7 linked regions of the Homo sapiens genome follow. The protein of the gene in region 1 interacts with the protein of each later gene in a biochemical or structural test. Each region holds a gene or a part of one and is shown in the gene's direction. Other genes may lie near its edges. The genes, in order: NFKB1, HMGA2, TNIP2, STAT6, ECSIT, PPARG and IRF8.

The links.
Region 2: the proteins of NFKB1 (region 1) and HMGA2 form a complex in vitro, tested with the Homo sapiens proteins (one study listed by BioGRID).
Region 3: the proteins of NFKB1 (region 1) and TNIP2 form a complex in vitro, tested with the Homo sapiens proteins (one study listed by BioGRID and IntAct).
Region 4: the proteins of NFKB1 (region 1) and STAT6 form a complex in vitro, tested with the Homo sapiens proteins (one study listed by BioGRID).
Region 5: the proteins of NFKB1 (region 1) and ECSIT form a complex in vitro, tested with the Homo sapiens proteins (one study listed by BioGRID).
Region 6: the proteins of NFKB1 (region 1) and PPARG form a complex in vitro, tested with the Homo sapiens proteins (one study listed by BioGRID).
Region 7: the proteins of NFKB1 (region 1) and IRF8 form a complex in vitro, tested with the Homo sapiens proteins (one study listed by BioGRID).

Annotation. Positions count from the first base shown.
Region 1 is NC_000004.12:102,602,025-102,606,373, forward strand, and holds part of NFKB1 (nuclear factor NF-kappa-B p105 subunit), read left to right. Parts: exon of another isoform or gene 1-7; intron 8-490; exon of another isoform or gene 491-962; intron 963-4,349.
Region 2 is NC_000012.12:65,833,992-65,838,340, forward strand, and holds part of HMGA2 (high mobility group protein HMGI-C), read left to right. Parts: intron 1-4,349.
Region 3 is NC_000004.12:2,749,519-2,753,416, reverse strand, and holds part of TNIP2 (TNFAIP3-interacting protein 2), read left to right. Parts: intron 1-3,898. UniProt on the Homo sapiens protein: Inhibits NF-kappa-B activation by blocking the interaction of RIPK1 with its downstream effector NEMO/IKBKG.
Region 4 is NC_000012.12:57,104,461-57,108,809, reverse strand, and holds part of STAT6 (signal transducer and activator of transcription 6), read left to right. Parts: intron 1-510; 5' UTR 511-531; coding exon 532-647; intron 648-1,066; coding exon 1,067-1,205; intron 1,206-1,495; coding exon 1,496-1,579; intron 1,580-1,978; coding exon 1,979-2,117; intron 2,118-2,229; coding exon 2,230-2,282; intron 2,283-2,470; coding exon 2,471-2,619; intron 2,620-3,210; coding exon 3,211-3,342; intron 3,343-3,470; coding exon 3,471-3,659; intron 3,660-3,996; coding exon 3,997-4,084; intron 4,085-4,218; exon of another isoform or gene 4,219-4,223; coding exon 4,224-4,346; exon of another isoform or gene 4,347-4,349. UniProt on the Homo sapiens protein: Carries out a dual function: signal transduction and activation of transcription. Involved in IL4/interleukin-4- and IL3/interleukin-3-mediated signaling.
Region 5 is NC_000019.10:11,515,287-11,519,635, reverse strand, and holds part of ECSIT (evolutionarily conserved signaling intermediate in Toll pathway, mitochondrial isoform 1 precursor), read left to right. Parts: intron 1-442; 5' UTR 443-465; coding exon 466-561; intron 562-4,349.
Region 6 is NC_000003.12:12,410,763-12,415,111, forward strand, and holds part of PPARG (peroxisome proliferator-activated receptor gamma), read left to right. Parts: intron 1-4,349. UniProt on the Homo sapiens protein: Nuclear receptor that binds peroxisome proliferators such as hypolipidemic drugs and fatty acids.
Region 7 is NC_000016.10:85,909,162-85,912,661, forward strand, and holds part of IRF8 (interferon regulatory factor 8), read left to right. Parts: coding exon 1-12; intron 13-2,408; coding exon 2,409-2,497; intron 2,498-3,500. UniProt on the Homo sapiens protein: Transcription factor that specifically binds to the upstream regulatory region of type I interferon (IFN) and IFN-inducible MHC class I genes (the interferon consensus sequence (ICS)). Can both act as a transcriptional activator or repressor.

The DNA of each region.
Region 1 (4,349 bases):
TCCAAAACTATGGCCAAAATCCTGTGTAATTATTTACTTAGTAAAGATATTTGTTCCTGCTCTCTCAGTTTTTATAGCAGTGATGTGAATCATTTCTATTTCCTCACTTTAAAGGAAAATGCTTTTATTATTTTAAAGAAAATTAATTAAAACTTCATTTTCTTTAAAGGAAATTAAAATATCTATTTTCTTATTTTTATTTCCATTCTTTAAAATGTGCTTTAGGCTGGGTGCGGTGGCTCACACCTATAATCCCAGCACTTTGGGAGGCCGAGGCAGGCGGATCATGAGATCAGGAGATCGAGATCATCCTGGCTAACATGGTGAAACCCCGTCTCTACTAGAAATACAAAAAAAAAAAAAAAATTAGCCAGGCATGGTGGCAGGCGCCTGTAGTCCCAGCTACTCGGGAGGCTGAGGCAGGAGAATGGTGTGAACCTGGAGGCTGAGCTTGCAATGAGGCGAGATCGCGCCACTGCACTCCAGCCTGGGTGACAGAGTGACGCTCTGTCTCAAAAAAAAAAAAAAAAGTGTGCTTTAAAGTGCATTTAAAGCAAAACTACTAAAACGTTTACATGTGGCTCTTAATAGTTTTTACCTGTGACTAGGTAAAAATTAATAGGTTTCCTGATAGGGGAAAATGACCATTTTTCATTCAATATAAGTCACCATTAGGCTTCTTCACTGGCTCTTGTGCTTCTTGTCAAAGGAAAAGTAAAGTTAGTGACTCTTCACTGCCTGTTAATATAAAATAACTAGTATGAAGTGTGATTGTAGATTTACATTTAAAGGATGTCTTCTTGAAACTTTCATACCGTTTTGGGGTCATTGGTATCCGTAAGGTCATTTTGCCTGTAAAGCTTGATTCTCGCAGACTTTTGGCTGATTGTTCCTTGTAGTCATCACAAATCTATGAATAAAACCAGGAATGGGACATTGTAGCTTGTCAGTCCTCTTTTCAAACCCTGCTTAACAGTCATATTCAAGGAATTACTTATTTTATGTTTATAAATAGGATCTGCAAAGGACACAGCACAACAGGATTAGTAGCTGTGATTTTTTTTTGGAGACAGAGTCTCACTCTGTCACCCAGACTGGAATGCAGTGGCGCGATCTCGGCTCACTGCAACCTCCACCTCCCAGGTTCAAGCGATTCTTCTGCCTCAGCCTCCTGAGTAGCTGGGATTACAGGCGTGCACCACCACACCCAGCTAATTTTTGTATTTTTAGTAGAGATGGGGTTTCACCATGTTGGTCTGGCTGGTCTTGAACTCCTGATCTCGTAATCTGCCAGCCTCGGCCTCCCAAAGTGCTGGGATTACAGGCATGAGCCACTGCGTCTGGCCAGTAGCTATGATTTTTTTTTTATATCCTAAACTCTTTACTGTATCATTTGGTTACATATGTTGAGACTCTCCAGTGTGTTAGAGACAAAAACCCTGAAACCGCCACCATTGATACTTCTATCCCTTCTGATTTGGGGACTCTCAGAAGACTATACGTCCATTTTTCCCCTACCTTACCACCAGTCTGATTAATGGGCAGTGATTCTGGCTTCCCTAGTATGCCTTCTAGGTGTCAAACACACACCCAATGGCAACTTTGATTTGAGAATTAGAAACTGCTAAGATTTGAACTCTTGATTATCTGTTGTAAAGGTTCTCTAGTAACTATTCTTAATGGAAAATGATACAGTTCTCTAAATAATTTGGATTATTTGACAGTTAAGCATTCTTCCCAAATACCTTTCACTAATCTAAGTACATTTCTGTGACCATCTGTCATGATCAAATTCCTCTCCCCACCCACCCTCTAGAAACACACTCAAAATAGTCCAAGTGCACCGAGTTAGGATTTTTTATGAAAATATTCTCTTTAAGCCTTTTTCTCCTTTCATTCTCCTTCCCCCAACATAGACAACCACTCTATCGTGTTTGGTATGGATTGTTTTATTTGTGTATGTTCCCATAAAACATTATTGGAGGGTTTTATGTATTTTTATGTTTTTAATTATTATACATATCATGTATATTCATAGTTTTAAAAATGGTACAGAAGAATCTACATTGGAAAGTCAAAGTTGCCCACCCTGACAATGCCCAGGTCTGCTAGCACAAATGTCACTATTGTGTTTATAGGTAGTTTTTCAAGTACTGGATACAAATGTACGTATACTTGAAATACATAGATATTTTCATATACTCTCACATACAATCCACATTATATTAAATGTACTTCTCTTGCCTTGCATTAACCTTTAAAATTTTTTTAATTTAATTTAATTATAGATTCAAAGGAGGTTACAAAAACGTACTAGGAAGTCCTAGTATTTACTGCAAGGAAACCAGAGGTCTCTTCACCCAGTTTCCCCCAATGGTAACATCCTGCATAACCTCAGAACAGTGTCAAAACCTGGAAATAGACGTTGATACAATCCACAGATCTTAATCAGATTTCACCAGTTTTACACACACTTGTGTGTATCTGTATAGTTCTTTGTGCATATATTTTTTAAATGCCTAAGTGGCATTGTGCTACATGTTACTGTATTTCTGCCTTCACTGCTTATCCACACAGTTCTACATATAGCTAGTTTGTTGTTTCAGCTCCTGAAGAGAATCTAGTATGGGTCTTTCACCTATAACATCCTTGTTTCCTAGTAGTAGACATTTAACCAACTTCTAACTTCCTACCTCAGTAGATAATACTGCAGTGACTGTCCTCACTTATGTCCTCTTGTGGATTTGTGTCAGAATTTCACCCAGATACATCTGCAAGAGTTGGGTTGCTGGGACATTTGTATATTTGGCTTTCCAGAATGTCTGTGTAAGTCCCCATGCCCACAGCCATAGCATGAAGGTATAATTGTTTAAGATATAATCCTTGGATTTAAGAACTAGAAGGTTTATATCATGGAAAACCATTGATTGGACTGTGGAAGAAAATATTAAAAAAAAAAAACCTCTCCGACTCATAAGATATTTTTTAATTAAATTCAAGCTACAGATAATTTATAATTCCTGAATGGTATACTATCTTATAATTTCAGATCCTTTTTTCACAATCTCATTCTCTTTCCTTTTCCCATCTCCCCAAGTAGCATTTCAGAAAACACAGATTAGTAAACACAGTTTCCATTGACTTATTTTTGAGAAGAAGGCTCTTGGCAACAATATCTAAAGTTTTGAGGACATCACTTCATTTCAGGCCAGGTTGATAGTCCTAGAAAATGAAAGAAATAAGGGCAAGTAATAATTTGGCAAAAAAAAAGGGTCTTGTATAGTAAATAATCACTGTAGTTGAGATTTAGACTACCCTCCCATCATTCATCCTGCCAGTTATCATGTGCTGTGGTCACCTACACAGCTAGGAGGTTGGTGGCTCACCTGCTGCTGTAGCCAGTAACTGCTCAATGAAAAGGGAATTTTAGGCAAATTGTCACAAGACTGGCTGGATGTCATAGTTAGGCTCCTGTGAAATAAACTGATTTGTATAAAGATACATTGCTGTTCTCTGTCAGTGAACTCAGTTATTTGAAAGATACGTTTGTGATTGTATTTGTCTTACTCATTTTTGAAAACACACAGTTTGCAAAACATCTTATTTGCATTCACCGAAGTAATACCTTGTGGGCAGGATAGTCAAATGGACTATTTAAGTACCTATTAGGTATCAGCAGCTCACCTTTTTTATTCAGCTGAGCCCCCTTGGTGAGATACTTGTATTATCCTGGTTATGTTATTTAGAATCTTATAATACCTTTTATGAAATGGGTGTAGGAAAGCTATATTGACTGGTCTCAGGAGCCAGTCCATGGGACAGTATTTTTTAATTTAGTAAATTTAGTTTCCATGTCAGCATAGAATCATGGCACTTTTGTTAATTGGTTTCTATTGAGTACTTTATTTAAATTTCTTCAGTGAAAACATAGCCTTAATTTGATTTGTTAATATAAAATTATCAGCTGGAGGTAACTCCTACCAGATATTTAAGAAAACTAAATTTACTACTAGGTGTGCTCAAAATCAACAATCAGTGGGTTGTAGTGAGAAACAAGAAGCTATTAAGACTTGTAAATATGAAAATAACCCACCACAGAAAAAATTGTAAGTATATGAAGTGATGGATTTGTAACTTAGCCTGATTTAATCATTTTATGTTGTAAACTTAGATTAAAACATCACATTGTACCTCATAAATATATACAATTACTATTTGTCAATTAAATTTAAGATAAATAAGAATTTTAAAACATGAATTATTGAATGGCTAAGTGTTAGTACAGTATATGTACTTCATTAGCATATAGTATGGAACAGGATAACTTGGGTGCCAAGGTCAGAAGTTAA
Region 2 (4,349 bases), on another chromosome or scaffold:
GTTAGCTCCTTTAATCCTCTGATTTAGGCATTGTGGTCTTCATTCCACAAATGAGAAAACTGTGATTCAAAGATGTAAACAGGACATATCTGATATTCAACTCTGGTAAATGGTAGCACCTGGGTTTGAATTCACTTTAATTCTAAAGCTTATACTCTTTCCACTACCATGTGCTGAATGTTCTGTAAAATATTTGTTACAAGGTAGATTTCTGTTATCTCCAGTAACCTGAAATGCAGGTTGGAAATTACGCTTTGGGAAACCTTTGAAGGGCCACTCCAAAGGTTATAAAGGGATTGGAAATGTATGCCTTCTGCGACTGATACCCACAAGACTTCTGGTTCCCAAATAATATCATGGGGCTATGTCTTTGGGAATTGTAACACATCCAGAAGTTTTCTTCTTTGCTAAATGAGAGGGCTAGGTGAAATTATCTCTAGTTTTACTGAACTCTAGAATTCTGATGATAAGAGGGAAATAAGACACACATATAAACACTTTTCCTTCCTTTCCTCTTGCCCTCCCTCCCTCCCTTCTTCCTCCTTCCTTTTTTTCCTTCCTTCCTTCTTTCCTTCCCTCCCTCACTCCCTCCCTTCCTCCCTTCCTCCCTCCCTCCCTCCGTTCCTCCCTGCCTCTCTCTTTGCCTCCCTCCTTCCCTTCCTTCAACAAGTATATAGTGAACACCTCCTGTACACGAGGCACTAGTGCTAAGCACTGTTTTCAAGCTCAAGAGATGTATTTGCTAGTGAATTTCTTTCCTAATTAGTTTTTAAAATATGCAGTACATTGAAGAGCCTGGAGTACAGAACTTCTTAGAGAAAGAAATAATTATATTTCCCATTTAACATTTCTCCTAATCTTCATGGACTTGCTTCTAAATATATCATAAAATTAAGTGTACAGTTTTGAATCTGAAGTTTAAAACATAAAAATATTAATGAGGGCAAACAAGGGAGAAATGACACTTTTAATGAGATATGATTGTTGTAAATATTCGCATAATAGTGCTGGTAACAGTCTGAAATTTCAGTTCTTACCAATGAGAATTCCGACCATATCTCCCTTTTCTCTCTTGATGTGAGCAATAAATAGTGAGAATTAGTTATGCCTCTGTTATACATGGGTTTGTAGTATAAAGCCAAATTCTATTCTGGCAAAGGAAAACCAAATATACACTTCTACAGTATTGCATATGTTAAAACAAAACAAGCCTCCTGAATGTTTTGTTTGTCTTTTTTGAAAAATAATATCCTGAAGAGCATTAAACACAGGAAAACAATATTAAAGCTGATGTTTTCCAATATGTAAAAATCCTGGATCTAAGCTGGTTTACAAACTAAAACCCTAACTTGTTTTGCAGCCTTTGTGGAGTTTGATTAGAATGATTAAATAATGTGGGTTTTAAAGAACAATGAAAACCTCCCAGATTGACGCCACACAGCACAGCTAATGTGTTTCTTCTAGATGTAGTCTCAGAAGAGGGTTTCAGTTTACATGTAACACTGGCCTGAACGACCAAGGAGCAAGTTTGCTTTTAACAAGTCCGAGTGATAATCGTGATATTTTGCCCTTTAGTTAATGGTGCAAATTTTATTTCTCAATAGGCTTTTTGTAAATGAGATGCTCATTTAAAAGTCATCTTATTTGCAGGGCTTTTTCTGTTTTTGAGAGATTTGCTTTCTCTGATTTTGAAATACAGTGAAACTCTTTCAGAAAAAAAACCTCTCTCTTCAATAGATTTTAGATACACCCAGATCACATCATGGCCCCTGAAACATAACAACCGTGCAGAAAAAGCCTGGTGTAGCACTGTTAACTTCTAAGGTCAATAGGCTCCTTCTCCCACCCTGACTTCACACCCCCTTTTCAATAAAAAGGATTTCTATTTTCCATGTTTGTGTAATTTACTACTGGGTTAACTGTGCAATCTTACAGTTGCTTCCAAAGATTAAGTCAGATGCTGCTTCTGTGCTAGAGAACTCCACACTCATGTATAACTCACTATGCAATAGCCAAAGGGATCCTTAAAAGCCTCATTCTAAAGGTGACAGATGGGTGTGAAGGAATACTTGCATTGACCAAGGCTTCTGTGAGAGGAAACTAACTTGAAGAAAAACTCCCTTTCTGGGAGGCAGAGGCGGGCGGATTACGAGGTCAGGAGATCGAGACCATCCTGGCTAACATGGTGAAACCCCGTCTCTACTAAAAATACAAAAAATTAGCCGGGTGTGGTGGCAGGCGCCTGTAGTCCCAGCTACTTGAGAGGCTGAGGCAGGAGAATGGAGTGAACCCGGGAGGCGCAGCTTGCAGTGAGCAGAGACCGCGTCACTGCACTCCAGCCTGGGCGACAGAGCGAGACTCCGTCTCAAAAAGAAAAAAAAAAAAAAAGAAAAACTCCCTTTAAGGGTTCCATCTAGTTAGGAGTGAAAGAACACTTATGGAGCACCTCATGGGAGGCAGGAACTTCTAAGTACTTCTAGGAATGATGTCTCACAGGAGGAGTCATCTCCATTGCACGGATGAAACCAAATTGAGGTCTTCAAGGACCTGCCCAAAGTCATAAAGCTAAAATGGAAGAGCAGGAATTGGAATCTAAGCGTTCCAAGGTAGAGTCTGTGATCTTCTCAGGGCACCTCCCTCTCCATGAGGCAATGCTCTGAAGAGGGTATTATTTACTTGACACTCTGGGCTTTCGCTAAATTCATGCCCTTGGGACTGAAGGTAAGACAATGCCACTAACCTCTGACAACAAATGATTCCTTTGTGGAGCCATTCAAAAGTGATAATAAACAATGATTCAGAGTGTCCAAATCAGATGGTTAGATAGAACCCCTAAAGGCTACCAGGTTTTCTTTTGTCCTGGGAAATTAACTGAATCAGTGACAATTTTAGTTTCCTAAAGTATTTTTTTATGGTAGCAAATGCTTGTATACTACCGGGTAGTAGCATTGTTAAGAGGCTAGGAGCACAGTCTTTACAGTTAGACAAAACTGGGTTCAAATCCCAGGTCTGCCACTTACCTGCTTTGTTTGTGACCTTGAGCCAGTTGTATACCTAACCTATCTAAGACTTAGTTGTTCATCTACAAAATAAGAGGAATAATAATACCCACTTTATAAGGCTGCTGTAAGGATTAACGTAACACATGTGACTGACAATCGAGTGCCTGGGATATTTTAAATGCTCAATATTTGTGAGTTAACATTACAGTCATATAGAGTTTGCGTTAATTCATGGGACCTGTTGGATAGTAATGCCAGATCAGGGAGATACTATTTGGTGAGAAATGTTGTGGCTTATTTTATCTCTCATCTACCTGTCTGTCTATCTGCCTATCCATCTATCTGTTTGTCAACTATCATGTAAAGCTATTTGTTTTTACCAGGCAGATTGAAGAGAAAAAGAGGAAAGTTTCATTTGGCAGTGTAGACAGTCAATATCACTGTACCAAGTACCCCCACCGGCTGCTAACTCAGATAACAAAAGTAAAATGTGGAACAAGGTATCCTGGTTCAAGTTACCTGTATTTGTGTGTTAATATAGCCATGGATGATTCTTATACATGAAACAATATGTACTAAGTTTTCTTTATCCTAAAAAGCAGGAACACGTTTTTATAGATGTATGTGATATGTGTGTGTATTGGTGTGTTGTTGTGTATGAAGATTGGACTAGGGCTGACAAAAACGGAAAAACTAATTGCTTTATAAATAATGTTAACAACTGTGATATCAGAAAAATCTTCTGTGAAGTAAAGCAATGAAATAAACTCTCAAGATAGAAATGTATTCATGTTAAGTGTGGGATTATGGTTAATAAAGTACATTTTTAATTAATCATTATTTCTAGGCACATATAGTTTTAATCACTGGGACAAACTGATGATTTCTGCCTGCTTTTTTTTCCTCTGCTTTAGGTGAACTGATTGACAGGTGATTGTTTCAGGCAAGGAACATTAAATTAAACATGTAGAAGTGTGCAAATATTTGTTATTTTGAATTAGAATGCTTGTGTATTCTTTTTCACATTTATACTTGCTTTTGACTACCAATATAGGTAGAAGAGCTTTGTAAATTGTAAAGTAATATGTCAATATTAATTTTTGCAACTTTAGTTGTGACATGGAAAGAATCTTGATCATCTTAAGAAATATTAATTTTCTAAAATACTAACTTATGTAGTTACAGAATGTGGGGATAATGTTTTTAATATGGACAGAAATAAAAGCAAAATAGCTTTTGAAAAAGCATTTTCATGTATTTCAGAAGAGATCACTACAGGGGGTGTCTTTTAGGGCGAGGGGTTGCATAGATACCTCTTTACATCATGCAATGAAGAAGAATCTACTC
Region 3 (3,898 bases), about 100 Mb from region 1:
CCAGGCTGGAGTGCAGTGGCACAAACATGGCTCACTGTGGCCTCAACCTCCTGGGCTTACGTGATCCTCCTGCCTCAGCCTCCCATATAGCTGGGACCACAGGAGTGTGCCATCACACCTGGCTAATTTTATTTTTTTTTTGTAGAGACGGGATCTTGCTGTGTCGCCCAGGCTGGTCTAGAACTCCTTTCTTCAAGTGATCCTCCTGCCTTGGCCTCCCAAAGTGCTAGGATTACAGGCATGAGCCACCACGCCCAGCATGGGGGGATTTTTAATTATTTAAGGAACATTTTAATGATTTAGTTTTGTTTGTTTGTTTTTTTATTTTTATTTTTATTTTTTTAGAGACAGGGTCTTGGTCTGTGACACTGCCACCTAGGCTGGAATGCCTTGGGGCCATCATAGCTCACTGTAACCTTGAACTCCTGGGCTCAACCAGCCCTCCCATCACAGCCTCCCGAGTGTCTAGGACTATAGGCGAAGAGCCTACCACAAGGACTATGAGCCACCACACCTGGCTAACTTCTTAAGTTTTTGTAGAGAAGGGGTCGCATGATGTTGCCCAAGCTGGTCTCAAACTCCTGGCCTCCAGGGATCCTCCTGTCTCGGCCTCTCAAAGTGCTGGTATTACAGGCGTGAGCCACTGTGCTGGCCTTATCTGGTATTTTATGCAATTACATATTTATTGCTCATCCCAACGTTCAATCTGAGGTCGGTCATGGAACCTGTGGAAGAATGGAGAGGTTTGTCACCTCCTGCAGGCCCTGGGTTCACTGAGGTGGCAGTGCAGAGTTAAAGACACAGCAGGAAGCAAGCCGTTGCTAGGTTGCTCTCATCTATGAGAGCCCGTTAGGAGCAGGAACCCTGGACCAGTAGGGACTGAGGGCTCCCAGAGAGAGTGCTGAGGCTCAGAATGTGGAGGAGCTGACCAGTGCGTCTGTGATCAAGCTGCGGTCAGTGTGTGATGGGGCAAGATCAGGCCAGAGAATTGTGGTCCTCAGTGCAGCCACAGCTGGACTTGAGACCTTACCTCATCTGTAACACAAGGCCTGAGTGGATAACTTTACAAAGCCCCTCCAGTTAATACTTTCTGGAATAATGGCACCAATTCATTGTGCAACCTGGTCCTGCCCAACCCCATCCTGTCACCATTCTCGGGACCAGCTTCATAGGCTTTGCCTGGTCCTGGCGTATCAGCCCCCTTTCCCTTCCGGCTTAGCTTAGCTTTGCTTTGCTTGTTTTCTTGGCTCTTTCTTTTCTTTTCTCTTCTCTTCTTTTCTTTCTTTCCTTCCTTGTTCCTTTTTTTTTTTTTTTAAACTGAGTCTTGCTCTGTCGCCAGGCTGGAGTGCAGTGGCGGGATCTTGGCTCAGTGCAACCTCCACCTCCCGGGTTCAAGCGATTCTCCTGCCTCAGCCTCCTGGGTAGCTGGGACTACAGGCGCCCACCAGCACGCCTGGCTAATTTTTTGTATCTTTAGTAGAGGCGGGGTTTCACCATGTTGGCCAGGCTGGTCTTGAACTCCTGACCTCGTGATCCACCCACCTCAGCCTCCCAAAGTGCTGGGATTGCAGGCATGAGCCACCGCCCCGGGCCACCTTCCTTGTTCCTTTCTTTCTTCCTTTCTCCTCCCCTCCCCTCCCCTCTTTTTGACAGGGTCACTCTGTTGCCCAGGCTGGAGTGCAGTAGCATGATCATAGCTCACTGCAGCCTTGACCTCCTGGGCTTAAGTGATCCTCCTGTCTCAGCCTCCCGAGTAGCTGGGACTACAAACGCCCACCACCATGCCTGGCTAATGTTTTTTGTATTTTTTGTAGAGACAAGGTCTCGCCATGTTGCCCAGGCTAGTCCCAACCCTTGGGCTCAAGTGATCCTCCCACCTCGGCCTCCCAAAGTGCTGGGATTACAGGCTTTGGGAGAATACACTTCTGTTGTTTAAGACACCAAGTTTGTGATACTTTGTTGCCGCAGCGCTAAAAGCCAAGAGGCCACTGTGCCTCTTAAGGCCAATCCACAAGACTATTAATAGAGCTGTTTACACTTTTGTGTTCTGAGCGTGGAGCTATGGAGTTGTGGGTCCCGGCGACAGGCTTTCCTGAGAGATGTCAGCCCAGTTGCTGACTAGTCTGTGTGTTGTGCCTGTGTGTGTAGACCCACAACTCCAGCTCGTACCTTGTTTTCTGACCACAGTGGTCGAGGTGCTGTTGTGTCCTAAGAACTGTTACTAACTGGACAAGGCACTCAGACAGATAAACCAGCACAAAGCTCTGCAACTTCAGAGCCAGTGACAAATGCCAGAAGCCCGGGGGCTGGAGGGGTCCTGGGGCCCTCATGCTGCCGAGGGGAGGATGAGTGGGGCAGCCCTTTGCAGGGCTGGCCTGCCCCCACGGGTTGAGCGTAGAGCCTGCGTCCTGATCTGTCTCTGTATGGCCCAGTCTTATTCCCATTTACTGGGCATCTGTGTGGGGCTGGGCTCAGTGTTGAGTACTAGGGTGTGGAGGCAAGAGAGAGCCACGCCCTCAGGATCTACGAGCTGTGGACATGCTGCCCTCCTGTTTGTGGAGCTGTTTGTTTCTCCTACTGTCAGCATTTGACCAACGCAGGAAGGAGGCTCCGAAATCAGATTTTACCTGGGCACGGTGACCCCTGCTGAGGCAGGAGGAGGATTGCTTGAGGCCAGGAGTTCAAGACCAGCCTAGGCAACATAGCCACACCCTGTCTTTATCAAAAAAAAAAAAAACCAGAAGTCAGGTTTTGCTCAAAGTCCTTTATCCCTGAAGAGGGTCTCACTGTCACCCAGGCTAGAGTGCAGTGGCACCGTCACAGCACACTGCAGCCTTGACCTCGAGCCCATGGTCCCAGCTATTTGGGAGGTTGAGACGGGAGGAACACTTGGACCCAGGAGTTCAAGGCTTCGGTGAGCTGTGATTATACCACTGTATTGCAGCCTCGGTGTCAGGGCGAGACCCTGTCTCTAAAATAATAAAATAATAATAATAATAATAATAATAATAATAATAATCAGGGTTCTCGCAGTAATAGGGCTTAGTATTTTGTTCCATTGTGATGAGAACATTCTAGGTTCCCGGTCTCTGTCCCTTCTTACCTCAAGTACTAGACACAGAGGCTGGACCCTTCTCCCGCCACTTCTGGGGGAAGCTTGGGCTCCTCCGTGACTTTTCTGAAACTGTTTCTTCACTTGTGGGATGGACTAGTTGAGCCTGCTTCACCTCCTTCATGTAATGTACTGTTTATTTTGGAGGATTCTTTGAAAACGGAAAAGTACAAATTTAAGGCCAGATATTAAAAAATTGTCAGGTCAGATGTGGTGGCTCGTGCCTATAATCCCAGCACTTTGGGAGGCTGAGGCAGGCGGATCACTCAAGTCCAGGACCAGACTGGGCAAAGTGGTGAAACCTTGTCTCTGCAAAAAATACAGAAATTAGCCAGGTACGGTGGCATGCACTTGTAATCCAACTACTTAGGGTGCTGAGGCAAGAGGATCACTTGAGTCTGGGAGGTGGAGGCTACAGTGAACCATGGTGGCACCACTGTACTCCAGCCTGGGTGACAGGGCGAGACCCTATCTCAAAATAAAATTGTCATTTTAAGAACCTTTTTAAATTCTTTAAGAAGTAATTGGGGTTGGGTGTGTTAATTTCCTAGAGCTGCTGTAACAAAGTAACACAAACTGGGGGGCTTCAAGCAACAGAAATTTAATCTTTCACAGTTCTAGAGGCCAGAAGCCAGAAACCAAGGCATCGGCTCTCTCTCAAGGTTCTAGGGAAGGACCCTTCCTCGCCTCTTCAGCTTCCTGTGGGGGCCACCAATCCTTGGTGTTCCTTGGCCTTTATCCACAAGACAAGACGTCACTCCTATCTTTGTTGTCACGTGGTCGTCT
Region 4 (4,349 bases), on another chromosome or scaffold:
AGTTTCAGGCTTTCCATGCTTGCTTTCAACAGGGCATCTTCGGTTTCGTACCTTTTATGTAATTGAGATTCCACAGATTAAAAGCTGACATTGCCTACCGCTTTAAAAAGTTTGGAAAGTTTTCCACTCATCTAACACTCATATTTTATAGATGAGAAGATCGAAGCCCACAAAGGGAAGGCTCTTTGCCCACAGAACCAGAGCCAGGTCTAGAGCTGCAACTAAATCCTCTGCCACTCTAAGAGAGCTCTCGCTCTACTGCCCTGTCTCCCTTTGCCTCCCCATCCCTCTGGCTACAGCTCAGCTCTTCCCACCCCTGTGTCTATCACTGAAGGAGTTACCCCCATCTCAGGCATTGACTCAGGATGCCCCTGGTTTAAGGTGGTCTGGCCATGAGTGGTGGTGGGGACGGTCCCTAGGAGGGCTATCTATGGGAGGTCCCTGGCTGCCCCAGGAGATAGGCCAAGTTTCTTGGGCACCCCTCAGAGTGGCCTTATTTTTCTCCTCCAGGCAACCTCCAAGTCCCAGATCATGTCTCTGTGGGGTCTGGTCTCCAAGATGCCCCCAGAAAAAGTGCAGCGGCTCTATGTCGACTTTCCCCAACACCTGCGGCATCTTCTGGGTGACTGGCTGGAGAGCCAGCCCTGGTGAGTCCTGGCTGCTCCCTGCTGGTCCCCCAAGTCTTCCCTAACTCATCTTCCTTCTCCTTAGATTTTTCTCCCCTCACCCATGGATTCAGAACTTGAGACCTGTTATTCCATGTGTAGTGACCTAGATTTAGCAGGGAGTCTGTGCCCCATCAAGACCAGGCTATGAATGTTGACAGATGGAGACCCCATCTCTTAGGAGGCTGAGCCGAAGAGGAGGGGGGTTTGGGCTGGGACAAAGGCACTTCTCATAACAGCTAGAAGACTGGGAAACAAGGCGCATGGGTGAAAGCTACAGAGGGCCTAGATGGAGAATAAGGAGCGAGAAAGGAACTGCTGAGCTTTTGGCTGTGGGGTAAAGGGTCAGGAGAGCTGAGGAAGCCCTGGCCTGAGGTAGCCTCATCCTGATCTTCCTGCAGGGAGTTCCTGGTCGGCTCCGACGCCTTCTGCTGCAACTTGGCTAGTGCCCTACTTTCAGACACTGTCCAGCACCTTCAGGCCTCGGTGGGAGAGCAGGGGGAGGGGAGCACCATCTTGCAACACATCAGCACCCTTGAGGTGGGGCAGGAGGGGAGGGGACAAGGCTGGGTGGGGCTGAGGTTGAACTGGGTTGAGCATTGGGCCCTGGAAGAAAATTGGTTGGATGCTGGAAGCAAATTGGTGTTCCTGTGGTTAACTGCTAGCTAGCAGGCAAATTAGATTTTAAAAGCATGCAAATGCACAAAAACTTCTGGAGTCTACAGTTGTGCTTCCTTATAGTATATGTGTGAATGCAGGCCTGGGGATTGGAGGGATTGAAGGACATGGGTAAGAGCAAAGCTCACTGTTTACCACCCTCATTTCTGTAGAGCATATATCAGAGGGACCCCCTGAAGCTGGTGGCCACTTTCAGACAAATACTTCAAGGAGAGAAAAAAGCTGTTATGGAACAGGTATTGTGATATTCCACCTCCCACCCCAACTCAATCCCCTGAGACTTTGGCCTGAGCCATGACAAACTAGAAAGAATTTGAACCTCAGTAAAGGCTCAGTGTTCTAGGCCCAGGAATGACCAAAGGAGGTTCCTAGGGTCAGAGTGAACCCCAAGTCAAGCTCAGGGAATCTTTCTATGAGGGACTGAAGGTAAGAGGCCGGGGAGAACAGAGCAAGGGATAAGGAGCTGATTCTGCTAGGAGCAAGGTCTTATCTCCACGATATTCCAAAAGGTCAGGAAGAACTGCCAAAGGGGAGAGGGGAACAAGAAAACGCTATCTGCAGAGCAGAGAGTGGAGGCCAGGTATAGAGGGATGAGCAGAGTGTTTCACTTCTTGGCATCTGTCCTTCCTGTGTAGTTCCGCCACTTGCCAATGCCTTTCCACTGGAAGCAGGAAGAACTCAAGTTTAAGACAGGCTTGCGGAGGCTGCAGCACCGAGTAGGGGAGATCCACCTTCTCCGAGAAGCCCTGCAGAAGGGGGCTGAGGCTGGCCAAGGTGGGGGCCAGGGTGGTTCTGGGGAGTGTGTAGGAGTGGTTGCCTCTTGGATCTCAACCTTATCTGAACCTCTAATCTGTCTGCACCCTTGATTTCTGCCCCCAACCCTCAGTGTCTCTGCACAGCTTGATAGAAACTCCTGCTAATGGGACTGGGCCAAGTGAGGTGAGTAATGGGCTGACAGGTGGAGACCTTGGTCAAAGTGCAGCTGGAGGGATGGAAGCTAGACCTCAGAAAGACACAGGCTGAAGTAGGGCAAGGGAATGCCAGAGGAGTGAGAAAAAGAGCCGTATCCCAGGAGCTGGGTGTGGAGGCAGCGTGAGGCCCTGGCTCAGGCCCCTCTCTGCCCATAGGCCCTGGCCATGCTACTGCAGGAGACCACTGGAGAGCTAGAGGCAGCCAAAGCCCTAGTGCTGAAGAGGATCCAGATTTGGAAACGGCAGCAGCAGCTGGCAGGGAATGGCGCACCGTTTGAGGAGAGCCTGGCCCCACTCCAGGAGAGGTTGGGCTAGGGCTGATGGGGAAGAGGGGGCAAGCTGGGGGTGGGCAGCTGACCCTGCTGAAGGCCCTACAGGTGAGAGAAAGAAGCCAGGCGGGAGGGCCTTGGAGTGGACCAAGATGCATAAAAGCCAGTTCCAGCGGGGCTGTGCACACTGTCGTTCAGGTCGCATCCTGTACAAGTGGGCCTAGTGGAGGGGCACAAGCGGGGACTCATCCAACCCAGGCTTCTCTCCTCAAGCCCCATGCCTAGAGGAATAGGAGGGCTTTTCCATTTGGTTTATTGGGTGGGAACACTTTCCAATTTGCCACAAAGCACTGTAAGTGGTGGCAGTTGTCCTGGGTGCAAGAGCCGTCGGGGGAGAGGCAGCTGGGTTTCCACAGGGGGTGTAGGCACTGAGAATGAACCTCCCACCCAGACCCTAGGCCAACAGATCACAGAACCCCCTTCAGCCCAGGTGCCTTGCAGCCACACCCACTACCCACCCCACTTCTCCACACATGATAGCCTTTCTCCCTGGGTATAGGGGAAGGGGGTCTGGGCCGGAGCAAGCAGCCTTAATCCTGTGCCCCCTGACCACTGTCCTGGCCCCAGGTGTGAAAGCCTGGTGGACATTTATTCCCAGCTACAGCAGGAGGTAGGGGCGGCTGGTGGGGAGCTTGAGCCCAAGACCCGGGCATCGCTGACTGGCCGGCTGGATGAAGTCCTGAGAACCCTCGTCACCAGGTATTCCCCGGGAGCTCCCAGTCTGGCCTAGAACAGACCTCGGGAAGAAAAGAAGGGGGCTAGAGCTGTGGGGAGGGCACCAGCAGGGACCTAGCCCCCAACTCCCCTTGTGTCCTCCTCACTCCCAGTTGCTTCCTGGTGGAGAAGCAGCCCCCCCAGGTACTGAAGACTCAGACCAAGTTCCAGGCTGGAGTTCGATTCCTGTTGGGCTTGAGGTTCCTGGGGGCCCCAGCCAAGCCTCCGCTGGTCAGGGCCGACATGGTGACAGAGAAGCAGGCGCGGGAGCTGAGTGTGCCTCAGGGTCCTGGGGCTGGAGCGTAAGCTGGGATTGGACCTGGGGTTGGAGAAGGGCTGTTAGGGTGATGGAGGCAGCCTGGAGGGCTGGCACTGAAAAGAGCAAGGGATGGGGAGGGAGGGCCATGGGATGTGGAGACCCTGAATGGTCAAGGCAGAGGAAAGGGAGGGACCCATTTAGGGCTGGAATGGGGTGGGGGCATCATGATTTGGCCAAGATGGGGACTCCTCCCTTAAGAACCCAAACAGAGACATGGAGATTTAGGGCTGGTGACAGTGGGTAGTCTACACTCACCCATGCACTCGCCACACCTGACGACAGTGAGATGAGCTCGTTCACACTCTGACCTCCCCTGGCAGAGAAAGCACTGGAGAAATCATCAACAACACTGTGCCCTTGGAGAACAGCATTCCTGGGAACTGCTGCTCTGCCCTGTTCAAGAACCTGGTGAGGGGCTTTGGGGTGCAGTGAGGGGGGCACCACTAGGAGACTGTGGGACTCTCCTTGGAGAGGATGTCAGGAAGCCCAGGAGGAGCGGTCTCTGTCCTCATGACCTCGCCCTTGCTCTCCCTCACCCCACCCACAGCTTCTCAAGAAGATCAAGCGGTGTGAGCGGAAGGGCACTGAGTCTGTCACAGAGGAGAAGTGCGCTGTGCTCTTCTCTGCCAGCTTCACACTTGGCCCCGGCAAACTCCCCATCCAGCTCCAGGTG
Region 5 (4,349 bases), on another chromosome or scaffold:
TAGTGGCTAGGAGTGCTGGCTCACACCCATGATCCCAGCACTTTTGGAGACAGAGATGGGAGGATCACTTGAAGCCAACAGTTCGAGACCAGCCTGGGCAACACAGCAAGACCCTGGGTCTCTGCAAACTATTTTCAAATTAGCTGGGCATGGTGGCACGCGTCTGTAGTCCCAGCTTCTCGACGCTCTGGGGCTGGAGGATCACTTGGGCCCAGAAGTTGGAGGCTGCATTGAGCTATGATCACGCCCCTGGGGCAGCAGGATTAGGGTGCTGTCCCAAGAACAAAGTCTTTGAGTCATCAGCCTGTTTCTTGGGTAAGGTAAACATTGGGGCTGGTGAGTGAGCCACATAATCTGGAGTGTGCCCTCGACCCTGCGGGGCCCTTGCGTCTGTTAGCATCTGTAAGGTGCCAGGCTAATGCTGAATCTTCTTTTGGGCCAGGTGATTGTCTGACAAGCAGAGGCATGAGCTGGGTCCAGGCCACCCTACTGGCCCGAGGCCTCTGTAGGGCCTGGGGAGGCACCTGCGGGGCCGCCCTCACAGGAACCTCCATCTCTCAGGTAAGCACCAGCCAGGCAGTCTTTTGGGTAGAGGGAGGTAAGCTTGGGATTTGCTCCCAACTCCTTCAGAATCCACTCTGTGAAGCCAGTTCTGGTGAGTCTGGGCTGGCCTATCAGTGCCGAGGTCCCATTAAAAGTCCTTAGTTTATGTATGTATGTATGTTTATGTGTTTGTTTTTTGAGACAGTGTCTCTGTCACCAAGGCTGGAGTGCAGTAGTGTGATTACAGCTCACTGTAGTCTTGACCTCCCAGGTTCAAGCAATCCTCCCGCCTCATCCTCCCAAGTACCCAGGACTACAGGCACATACTACCACACCCGGCTAGTTTTTGTATTTTTTTTGTAGAGACGGGGTTTCACCATGTTGGGCAGGCTGGTCTTGAACTCTGGGCTCAAGTGATCCACCTGCGTCAGCCTCCCAAAGTGCTGGGATTACAGGCGTGAGCCACCGCGCCTGGCCAAAAGTCCATAATTTATTTATTTTTTTGAAACAAGGTCTTGCTCTATCACCCAGGCTGGAGTACAGTGGTGGAATCAGGGCTCACTGCAGCCTCAAACTCCTGGGCTCAAATGAGCCTCCCACCTCAGCCCCCTGAGTAGCTGGGATCACTGATTTGAGCCACCATGCCCAGCTAATTTTTTTTTTTTTAGATGGAATTTTGCTCTTGTCGCCAAAGCTGGAGTGCAGTGGCGTGGTCTTGGCTCACTGCAACCTCTGCCTCCTGGGTTCAAGTGATTCTCCTGCCTCAGCCTGCCGAGTAGCTGTGATTACAAGTGCACATCACCACGCCCAGCTAATTTTTGTAATTTTAGTAGAGACGCGGTTTTGCCATGTTGGCGAGGCTGGTCTCAAACTCCTGACCTCAGGTGATTCACCCGCCTCGGCCTCCCAGAGTGCTGGGATTACAGGCATAAGCCACCGCACCCGGCCGCTAATTTTTTTTTTTTTTAAGTATATGGTCTTGTTGTGTTGCCCAGACTGGTCTTGAACCTCTGGGCCCTCAGTCCTTCCACTTTGGCCTCCCAAAGTGCTAGGATTACAAGTGTGAGCCACTGTGCCTGGACCCTAATTTAAGAGATGCTAGTGCCTACGTGGGTGAGGGGATTGACTTTGAAAATAAGGATGTATGAGCTCGGTGGATTTGTGTGGTGACTGTGAGCAGCTCCTCCTGCATCTACTTGTGAAGATGGGGCAGAAAACTGAATTTCTTTCCTATACCCATAGTGACCAGATGGCGAAAGCAGATTGACAGCCATAGATAGCAATAACGATGATGGTGGGAATATTAATAGTTCCCATATTGAGCACTTACTCTGTGCCCGGCCCCGCACTATGCATTTCATTTACATTACCTCCTTTGCAGTGTTTCCCCCTCGTTAGGCATTTTAGAGCTTCCTTTCTGATTTTTACCCCAAAGTGGTACAATACTACACCACCTATATTATTAATTGACTGAAATTTCAGTTGTTTTTTGTTTTTGAGATGGAGTCTCCCTCTGTCACCCAGGCTGGAGTGCAGTGGCGTGATCTCAGCTCATTGCAACCTCTGCCTCCCGGGTTCAAGTGATTTTCCTGCCTCAGCCTCCTGAGTAGCTGGGATTACAGGTGTGCGGCACCACACCTGGCTAATTTTTGCATTTTTGGTAGAGATGGGGTTTCACCATGTTGGCCAGGCTGGTCTCAAACTCCTGACCTCAAGTGATCCACCCGCCTCTCAAAAGTGCTGGGATTACAGGCACGAGCCACTGCGCCCAACCTGAAATTTTACTGTAAATGAATGCCTTTTTTTTTTTTTAACATTGCCTTATCAAAGAACGATATGGGATGGCTGTGGGGACCGCAGAGTAGGGGGACTGAGGGCACTGACTCCATTCTCAGCTCTGATGCTTTGCAGCTGTGTAACACTGTGCATCCCACTTCATCTTCCTGAGCCTTGGTTTTTCTCATCTGTAAAATGAGTGCAGTAAGAGTACCCCCCACCTAGGGCCTCACATTTGTAAAGTGCTCAACTGTGTCTACAGTGGAAGAATATTTGGTAAATATTGTCTCTTTCTTTTGAGATAGGGTCTCGCTCTGTTGCCCATGCTGGAGTGTAGTGGCGTGATCTTGGCTCACTGCAACCTCGACCCGCCAGTCTCAATTGATCTGCCTACTTCAGCCTCCTGAGTAGCTGGGACTACATACATTCACCACCATGCCTGGCTAATTTTTGTATTTTTTTGTAGACATGAGGTTTCAGCAGGTTGCCCAGGCTGGTCTCAAACTCCTGACCTCAGGTGATCTGCCCGCCTCAGCCTCCCAAAGTGCTAGGATTACAGGTGTGAGCCACCGAGCCTGGACTAATATTGGCTCTTACTTGTTAGCGTTTTGTGTGTGTGTGTGTGTGTGTGTAGATAAACACACACACATTCATTTATTTTTTAGAGATAAGGTTTTACTCTCTCGTTCAGGTTGGAGTGCAGTGACACAATCATAGCTCACTGCAGCCTGGGATTCCTGGGCTTAAGCAGTCCTCCTGCTTCAGCCTCCTGAGTAGCTGGGACTACAGGTATACACCACCACGCCCCGCTTATTTTTTTATTTTTTCATAGAGAGATGGAGTCTCACTATGTTGCCCAGGCTGCAATGCGGTGGTGCAATCAAAGCACAGTACAACCTTGATAACTAGCTGTATATTTTTAAGATGCCTTATATGTAACCCTTCTAATTTAAAAATTCAATTTAAAATAAGAAATTTGTTACTGTGTCATCTAGAACCAGAATTTGGCTACTCTGGAGGCTGAGGTGGGAGGATCACTTGAGCCCAGGAGTTCTGGGCTGTTGTGCACTATGCTGATGGAGTGTCCTGCACTAAGTTTTGCTTAATATTGTGACCTCCTGGGACTTGGGGGACCACCAGGTTGCCTAAGGAAGTGTGAACTGACCCAGGTTGGAAACAGCAGGTCAAAACTCCTGTGCTGACCAGTTGGCTCATGCCTGTGAATAGCCACTGCACTCCCGCCTGGGCAACATAGCTAGACTCCATCTCTTAAAGGGTCCCAGCACTTTGGGAGGCCACGGTGGGTGGATCACCTTAGGTCAGGAATTCGAGACCATCCTGGCCAACATGGTGAAACCCCGTCTCTACTAAAAACACAAAAATTAGGCCGGGCATGGTGGCTCACATCTGTAATCCCAGCACTTTGGGAGGCCGAGGTGGGCGGATCACAAGGTCAGGAGTTCAAGACCAGCCTGGCCAACATGGTGAAACCCTGTCTCTACTAAAAATACAAAAGTTAACTGGGCATGGTGGCATGTGCCTGTAATCCCAGCTACTTGGGAGGCTGAGGCAGAAGAATTGCTTGAACCAGGGAGTCAGAGGTTATAGTGAGCTGAGATCGTGTGACTGCACTCCAGCCTGGCAACAGAGCGAGACTCCATCTCAGGAAAAACAAACAAACAAAACATAAAAATTAGCTGGGCATGGTGGCAGGCGCCTGTAATCCTAGCTACTTGGGAGGCTGAGGCAGGAGAATCGCTTGAACCCACAAGGCAGAGGTTGCAGTGAGCTGAGATGACACCATTGCATTCCAGCCTGGGCGACGAGTGAAACTCTGTCTCAAGAAAAAAAGAAAAAGAAAGAAGGGGCTGGGTACAGTGGCTCATGCCTGTAATCTCAAGACTTAAGGTGGCTACGCCGGGCGCGGTGGCTCATGCCTGTAATCCCAGCACTTGGGAGGCCAAGGCGGGCGGATCACGAGGTCAGGAGATCGAGACCATCCTGACTAACACAGTGAAACCCCGTCTCTA
Region 6 (4,349 bases), on another chromosome or scaffold:
TTAAGTTTGTGCATTCTGAAATTTACAATGGCCATCAAACCCAGTGACTCAAAGCTATTGGAAAGATATCTGTCCTTTTAAATCCTACACTTACAGCTAAACAACGTATGGGTTCTTTTCCCTTTATCTCTGGAAAAGCCCGACTGAGCTGGAATTTGCTCCCCAAAGGAAAGACATCAGGCAGAATCCTCAGAGAAAGGGGCTTAGGGACCCCAGTAGAAATAAAATCAGGATAGTAGTGCCAATTCATTTCTGGGGCTGCTGGAGAAGTTAGGCTTCTGGGATCATTCATCCATGTATCAATATTAATAAAATAAATTCTTCTATTGCCAGGACTGTCAGGAATAGCTAAAGATGTAAAAGATCTAAACCAGTGTGTTCTTTCAGAGAATAAGTTAAAAATAATATTTTATAGAGTTAAAAAGAAAAGCACTTGGATTTTTTTTTTCCAATGGCTGGACTCAGTTGGCCAATACCCTTGTTTGCCTGCTGAGTAACTCTTTGGCTGGCAATTGATTTTTTTAAGAGCTGTGGTTATGTGCTAGTTCATTAGCATGTGAATAATTCTTCATATTAAGTTTTCATTTGTTTGTCGTAAATCTCTAAACCCTGCAGGAAAGCAGAATATCTTTGACAGCTTTCAAACTTCACTTCTATCACACACAGCACTCCACCAGCACCTCTAGGAAACAGTGGTTCAAAAGGCCCTGCCCCAAGACCCCAGCATGTTAAGAGCGTTAGTTTAAAATCTCCAGTTCATCCTAGAACAATCATTTTAAAAGGAAAAAAAGAAGTGGGGAAGTCCTATAGAAAGCAATGGAAAGGGAAAAGTTCTCAACCCAGAATCGGGGCTTAGGTTCTAGTTCCTGGTTTGCTATAAATGGCACTTTGACTTTGGAATGTCTCTGGCTTCCGTTTATCCATTAGTCAGAGAATGATGGGACAGATTACTTCTGAAGACCCCTTATGTCCTATAAATCTCATAGTTCTCAACAAGAGGGAAACGGGAACAACAGGGGCAGAAACCAACGAGAGGCTGAGGAAACCAAACCAATGAGTTTTGGATTGTAGCTAACCGAGGAGAACCAGGTGTGTCAAAGGTGATGAAAGTCAGATGTGTAAAAAGCAAGAAGGAAACAAAATGAAGAACATGAGCCCTAAGAATTCAGTGTCTTTCCCTGGTAAAACTAAGAACATCAGGAAAGCCACACTCGATGAGGCACACATTTTTCCAAGCCAGTTTTCACTCTGACAGGGTTACCTCAAGTGATTGTTTGAGAGAGGGTAGAGGGGTTGACTACACTCATTCAATCTGCCAAATTAGAAAAGTCACCCAGAATACCCTGTGCTTTTTGAGTGATTTTCATGTTTATCTCCCGTAGCTTGCTATTTTGTTATTCAAAAGGAGTGTAAACTTAGGGCATTCATGTATAATACCTTTCATAACTCATGTTAAAATGCTGATGTTATTGGATTTCTCAGGAACACTACTGTTCTATTTCTCCATTCAAAAAGGTAAAAAAAAAATTAATTACTCTATTTTCATCATTAATCCCATTTCCCCCATTGTCTTTGTATTCTACATAGGAAGCATGCCATAGATCTATAATTGAATTTACTCATCTATATAAAACAGTACTTTTAATCCCATCCTGAAAATCAAAATATATTTTTGAAAATCAAAATATGTCAAAATTGAAAATCAAAATGTCAAAATATTGAAAATTGAAATATATCAAAATTAATTATATTTGATGTATCCCTCAAAAAATTGATTTCTCCTTACAGAAATCATTTTGCTTTCCTGGAAAAACACTGGGTTCAAGTGCAGCTTTCTTCATTCCGTTCTGGTCTGTCCAGTATATGAAAAGCACAAGCACACAATGACCAGTGACAGATTCACCATGAAGCTAATGAAGCTTCATGGGGCCCTTCCCTTGTGCAGAAGTCCTTCCAGTGCTTGGGGAAGGGCCGAAGCAATTTTATTCTCATAATTTGTAATATTTTCCTTAGAGAGACTCCACTACTGTGTATATTTTATGCCCCACAAAACCTGAATTCACCCCATCATGTCCCATTTGTAATTAAGCTTTCTTTCCTGTTAAGGAGGGACGCTTACCCAGCCCTTTGATGTACGGTCTGAAGATAAATACACTGTTAGCCCCCAACTAGAAGTGTAAAATCATTAAGACAAAATTTGAGAATGATACGGCTCCTATAATGGCAATCTTTGGATGATACTGTCCAAGCTGATGGAAAGTGTAAGGACTCCACTTTGCTTTGTAAAAAATACAAAAAAACAGCCATGGAAGTGCAGTACATTTTGTATGGAACATTGTACCACATTGTACCAAATGTCATGTTAAATTAATGATTCAAGATAAAATGCAGACCAAATTTGACCAGGGTTTTAAGAGGTTCTCTCTCCATAAAGCAGGCTGGCCACGATCTTCTCACTAGGTTTGAGGGTAAGGAGGTCCCCTGTGAAATATGAAAGTGAACTCTCTGCTATCTAAGAATTGGTGAATTGGTTGCAAAGAAAGGCAGACCAGGCCCACCCAGGGATCACTCTTGCAGTTTGACAGATCTACCTGGAGGCTGAAAGAATCTATGCAGCCTTCGGAAATGCAGTGAAAACAGTATAATCAGATATGACTAGGGAAAAAATAAAACAACTGGTGTTCATTTGCATGTCAACACCCAGAATTCTCTGCTAGTTCACCTCTTCTTCAGAATGCAGAAAGGATTGAAAAAGCTGGAATGGGGCCGGGCATGGTGGCTCATGCCTGTAATCCCATCACTTTGTGAGGCAGAGGTGGGTGGATCACCTGAGGCCAGGAGTTCAAGACCAGCCTGGCCAACATGGTGAAACCCCGTCTATACTAAAAAATAAAAAAATTTAAAAAAAATTGCCGGGCGTGGTGGTGGGTGCCTGTAATCCCAGCTACTCTGGAGGCTGAGGAGAATCACTTGAACCCAGGAGGTGGAGGTTGCAGTGAGCCTAGATTGCGCCATTGCACTCCAGCCTGGGCAACAGGAGCAAAACTCCATCTCAAAAAAAAAAAAAAAAAAAAATGAAATGGTTTGGCATGATGGTGGGGTGCTGATTCCTCTCTCTGTCCTTGAGTATTTACTGCCAGGAAATCCTGACCAACATCAATTGCCAAGGGGTTAAAGTCACATTGTTGTTAAATTGGGAGAGAAAATTAGCAGGATTTTGTGCCCTATGTTCAACTATTACAGAGTTTCAAAAACAGGAACCTGGAGCTTTATATGAGGGGACAGGGGAAGTAAAGGGGAAGAGTGACAAGGGTGATTTATCAGGGCATAGTTCCAGATAAATCACTTACATGGAGGTGAAAGAATTTCATGCATATGTTCTGTGCCAAGAAGCCAAATGGTTGAGCAGAAGCTCTGAAAGTTGAAGTGGGCAGTTCTGGGTACAGTCTTTCCACATGTGAAAAGGTGATGATTTTATATTCATGTTATTTGTACTCCTGCATGTGCAGTTGGTCTTTTCAGGTGTCCAGATCATCATTTTCTCATGACATGAAAGAAAGCCAATAAAGGCTAGTTGTGGTGGCTCACACCTGTAATCCTAGCACGCACTTAGGGAGGCCAAAGCAGGACGATCACTTGAGCCCAGGAGTTCAAGACCAGCCCAGGCAACATACATAGCAAGACCTCATCTCAAAAAATGAAATAATTTTTTTTTAGAAAAAGAAAGTAAATATTTCATTAATATAAATTATAATACACTGTAAAATGCCTGGAGGACAAGAAACACGTTTTCTCTAGGTTCTGTGAAAGCATCATTATCCATTCACATTTTTCTCATAATTAGAACCTGACGTTCTGGAAAAATACAGTAAATTTTCATCGATGTTACTTGCTCTGCCCCCCTTGTATTCCTCCCATTAATAATATTAATCCTGAAAAGAAAAAAAGAAAAAGGAAAGAAACCACCCAAGCAAAATGTTTAAGAAATACGGTAAGGACAGTTTGGTCCCAATTTCCTTAAAAATTAGAGCCACCAAGTAAACCTGTTTGGGGGTCCTCACATCTGTCCTCTTTTGGAGTTTGCTAAGTAGTACAGTTGAAGTGAATTTTTTGGTAACAAAAGTAAAAACTTCCAGAATAACTCCAGTAAAGGGTGTTGATGTGACGTACAAGTTTGGAAATATATTTAATATCTGAGACTCCTCAATGTTGGTGTTATTTCCTCCAGTTTAGAACAAACTTAATCTTTTGATGAAAATCATAGAGTTCCATAGATATGAATAGAATCTCCAACCAGTGCATCTTGAAGCCGGCTGCCACGGCCACTCATGCACCTTCTCTCCTTTCAG
Region 7 (3,500 bases), on another chromosome or scaffold:
AAGAGCAAAAATGTAACTATCCTTTATGGGCATGAAACCTTCCAGAAGCTGCCCTGGCCTGTAGCCTTCACCACAGAACTTGGGTCTGGGGTAGACACAGGGTCTGGGGCACATAGTTTCAGTTAAACAAAGCAGTTCTCTCCTTCGTGTAAGCAGAAATTGAGATCTCTTTCCAGTGACCTCAGAGGGAAGGGCGGAGGAGATTGGGTGCTGCCCAACCTGTGCCCCACTTGCTGCCTGACCACAGACATTTGTAGGGCCTCCCTGGACAGGAACAAGCATCCTCCAGCAGTTTCTGATGAGGAATCCTTTCATTTTCCAGCAGCTTGCAGAGGAGGCCAGGGGAAAATATGGTGACCACAGAAGGCCTGGATCATGAGGGTTGGGAGTAAAGCTCTCAGATGAAGTTGTCAAAGATGGCACCATGGCCTTCGTTGTTGGAGATGGGATATGCCTCAGTGTGTTACTAGATCCTGATTGTTATTTGGGAACTCCGGGATGTGATCATTCCTGAGGTTTCTTCCAGCTCTCAAATCCCAAGAAAGCATTTGTGACAGATTAAAGCAGGACAGCAAAAACATGCCGCACCCTGGTCCTACATCACTAAAATAAATCCCAAAGTACTGAGCTGGGATCTGGCCTCAGAAGGCTTCTCAAAGCCCTGTGCTGTGCCGCTGCCATGAATTGTAGCTGATTTATGAGATAAAACCTAATTACCAGCGCTGGTTTAGAACATGCTTTTAACACATTGATTTTCTTAGCCACTTGATGAGGCTTTTAGAATAACCCACTCTGGCTTTCTCCTTCTAAGCTTCTGAGTAGTCCACGAATGCCTGTAAGAAACAGAAACCCCCAAAACTTCTTGGGGCTGTGCAGAAGTTTGAAGTTTGCACTCTTCCCGCTGTGGGGGTGTTGACTTAGAATTTTTTAAGAAGTTAAAATGGTGATTCAAACAAATCTATAGTGAATCTGTGTCAGAGAGTTGTGTAATCGTCATGAAGGAGGCAGCATGATGGTAAAGATGGTGGACAGAGAATCCGAGGTGCTGGTGAATGTGGCCCATGAACGAGAAAGCTGAGCCAAAGCCGATGCCCGACCCGGACAGTACAATTGCGGTTTGGGGCGTTTGTAGCCTAATCGTCTGCAATTAGCACCTAACTCTACTGAGCGTGAACCCTAGTCAATACTAAATAGTAAGGCCAACAAACTGACCTTCCCTTGGAGAATCGGGTGCCCTTTAGGAGGAAACCTCTATATAATAGTCTGGGGTGACCCTGAAAGGCTAAGCAGTCATCTTTTTGCCTCATTTCCCAGTTTTGGACAATTTTTTTTATCACCAAAAAGTAAAGTGTGATTTGAAGGAATAGAGAAGTTTCTTTTGGCCCCTACTGCCACCCCCAAGATCAGTCAGGCTTGAACCGGCAGGTGACCCCAACTTGTTTATAGCATGGGGTGCAGCCAGCATCACCTGCTAGTGATGTTAAAGAAGCAGCAGGAGGTTCTCAGGGGTGAAGCAATGTAGCATTTGCATAATTGCCTACAGGGGCCCACTCGCCTCTAACCTCAGTGGTTTGCAGGCTCCATGGTGGGCGCCCCACCTGCTCCCTACTTCCCCATCAGTAGCTTCTCAGTGAATTCTTTAATCTATCGAAATGGAATCAAAATTCAGCCAGGAGGAAACAGTGGGTAAATTCTGTAGGTCACTGGGAATAATGAATTTTTGTAAGTGTTGGTTGTGATACGTCTCACACTGATAAACTTCATAAGGTAAGTTGTCGACTGAGGAAGCGGCATGAGAAGGGAAAGAGCAGAGGCTGGCCCAGCGTGCCCCTGTGGACACTGTGCACCTTTAGGCGGTTTGTGATTACGGCTGGTGCCCACTGGGCATCAGTGAGGGTGCTGCGGTGTGTGTGTGTGCATGGCTGTGTGCACTGATGCACATGTGTATATTTGGAAAGGCCAAAAAGAGATTTCCTGCCAACTGGCAATACAAAAAAGACCCCAACCTGCCAACACGTTTTGCCAGGAAATCGGTGAGTGTTTTCAAATGCCCTGTCTTATAAATGTAACCTTCTTAAGTTAGCAAATGCTTGCTGTAAAGTATATCTGATACAGACTCATTTTGGATCTCAGAAAATAGAAGAAAGAGACCAAAGTGCTGTCTTTATCCTTTAAAAGTGTTAGCAGAAACAACCACCACCACCACCACCACCAACTTCTCTCTTTTGACTTTGCTGATCAGATGACTGAAGCATGGGAAAAAAATTCTGTGCCTTTCCCAAACCAATGAAGACACTCACTAACTTAATGTTTCCTTAAACTCAGCATTTACAGAGTAGATTATGGCTTCAGCAAAGGCTGTGATGCCTCCGTGCCATGTGTCATGGTGTTTGTCTGGTTTTCTGTAGGCAAACTAGGCGTGGCAACTGCTGGCTGCGTGAATGAAGTTACAGAGATGGAGTGCGGTCGCTCTGAAATCGACGAGCTGATCAAGGAGGTAAGCAGAGGCAGCATTTCAGGGGTCTGGCCCTGCCAGGAGGAGTCTCATGTCTTCTGGCAGGGAGGGGCACCGTTCTTGCTGTATGAAGGCAGCCAGACCCTCGGGCTCGCTGAGGAAGTGGCATCTCCACCTGTACAGATCTGGAACGGAAGGACTGGCTGGGCGCCCCCTCCCCAGGCCAGCTTCTGCCGACAGGTCAACCCCTCACGCCAGATCCCTCCTTCATCCCTAGGGCTGGGCCTGAGCTGCCGGTTATGTGTCAGTGAAGTTCCTTCCAGCTCCAAACTGTTCGAACACTTTGGACAGCAGTCTTTTAAATGGCATCGTGAATTCCCTTGCCTTCCTAGCAGGCTACAGAGAACAAAATGTAAACTTTCCTTGCTGCCTGCGCTTGTCATGATGGCGGGTGTTGTTGTACCAGCTCTCATGGCTATTTGATTGCTTCCTTTTTAATGTGCAGTTTTTATTCCTTAACGGATTGGAAAGCTGGATAACCAAGCATGTTCACATTGCACATAAATTCCTAACAGGCTACAAGGGAGAGCATAATCGGGGCCTCCTTAGGCAAGAATACATGGCTTTTGTATACCCATTTCAGCTATTGGGATGCCCTTTTCTTCTGTCTTTGGCCTCTTAACTATGCTTTTCATGGGTATTACAAGGTGGACATTTGCATGACTAAACCTCGTGCAGCCTTTGCAAAAGGTTGTGTGTGAGTACTGCATAAATTCTTCTTCTTAATAACATAGCAATAATGGAATCCTTAAGAGTAGCTTGGCTGTCAGAGAATGAAGATAACAGAATGTAACCTACCCGAACGGCCTTGCTCTTCTGCACAGGCAGCTGCCAAGTGTCTGGGTGGTCTTTGGCAGCCGACTGAGTGAATTCTTGGCTTCGTGGCCCTCCACCAATGTCCTGTTTTCTGTAGAAGGCTTTTCTGCTGACTCAGCTGAGAGAGTGAGATAATCGGATTGCCACACCGGGGTCACAAGAAAAGCAA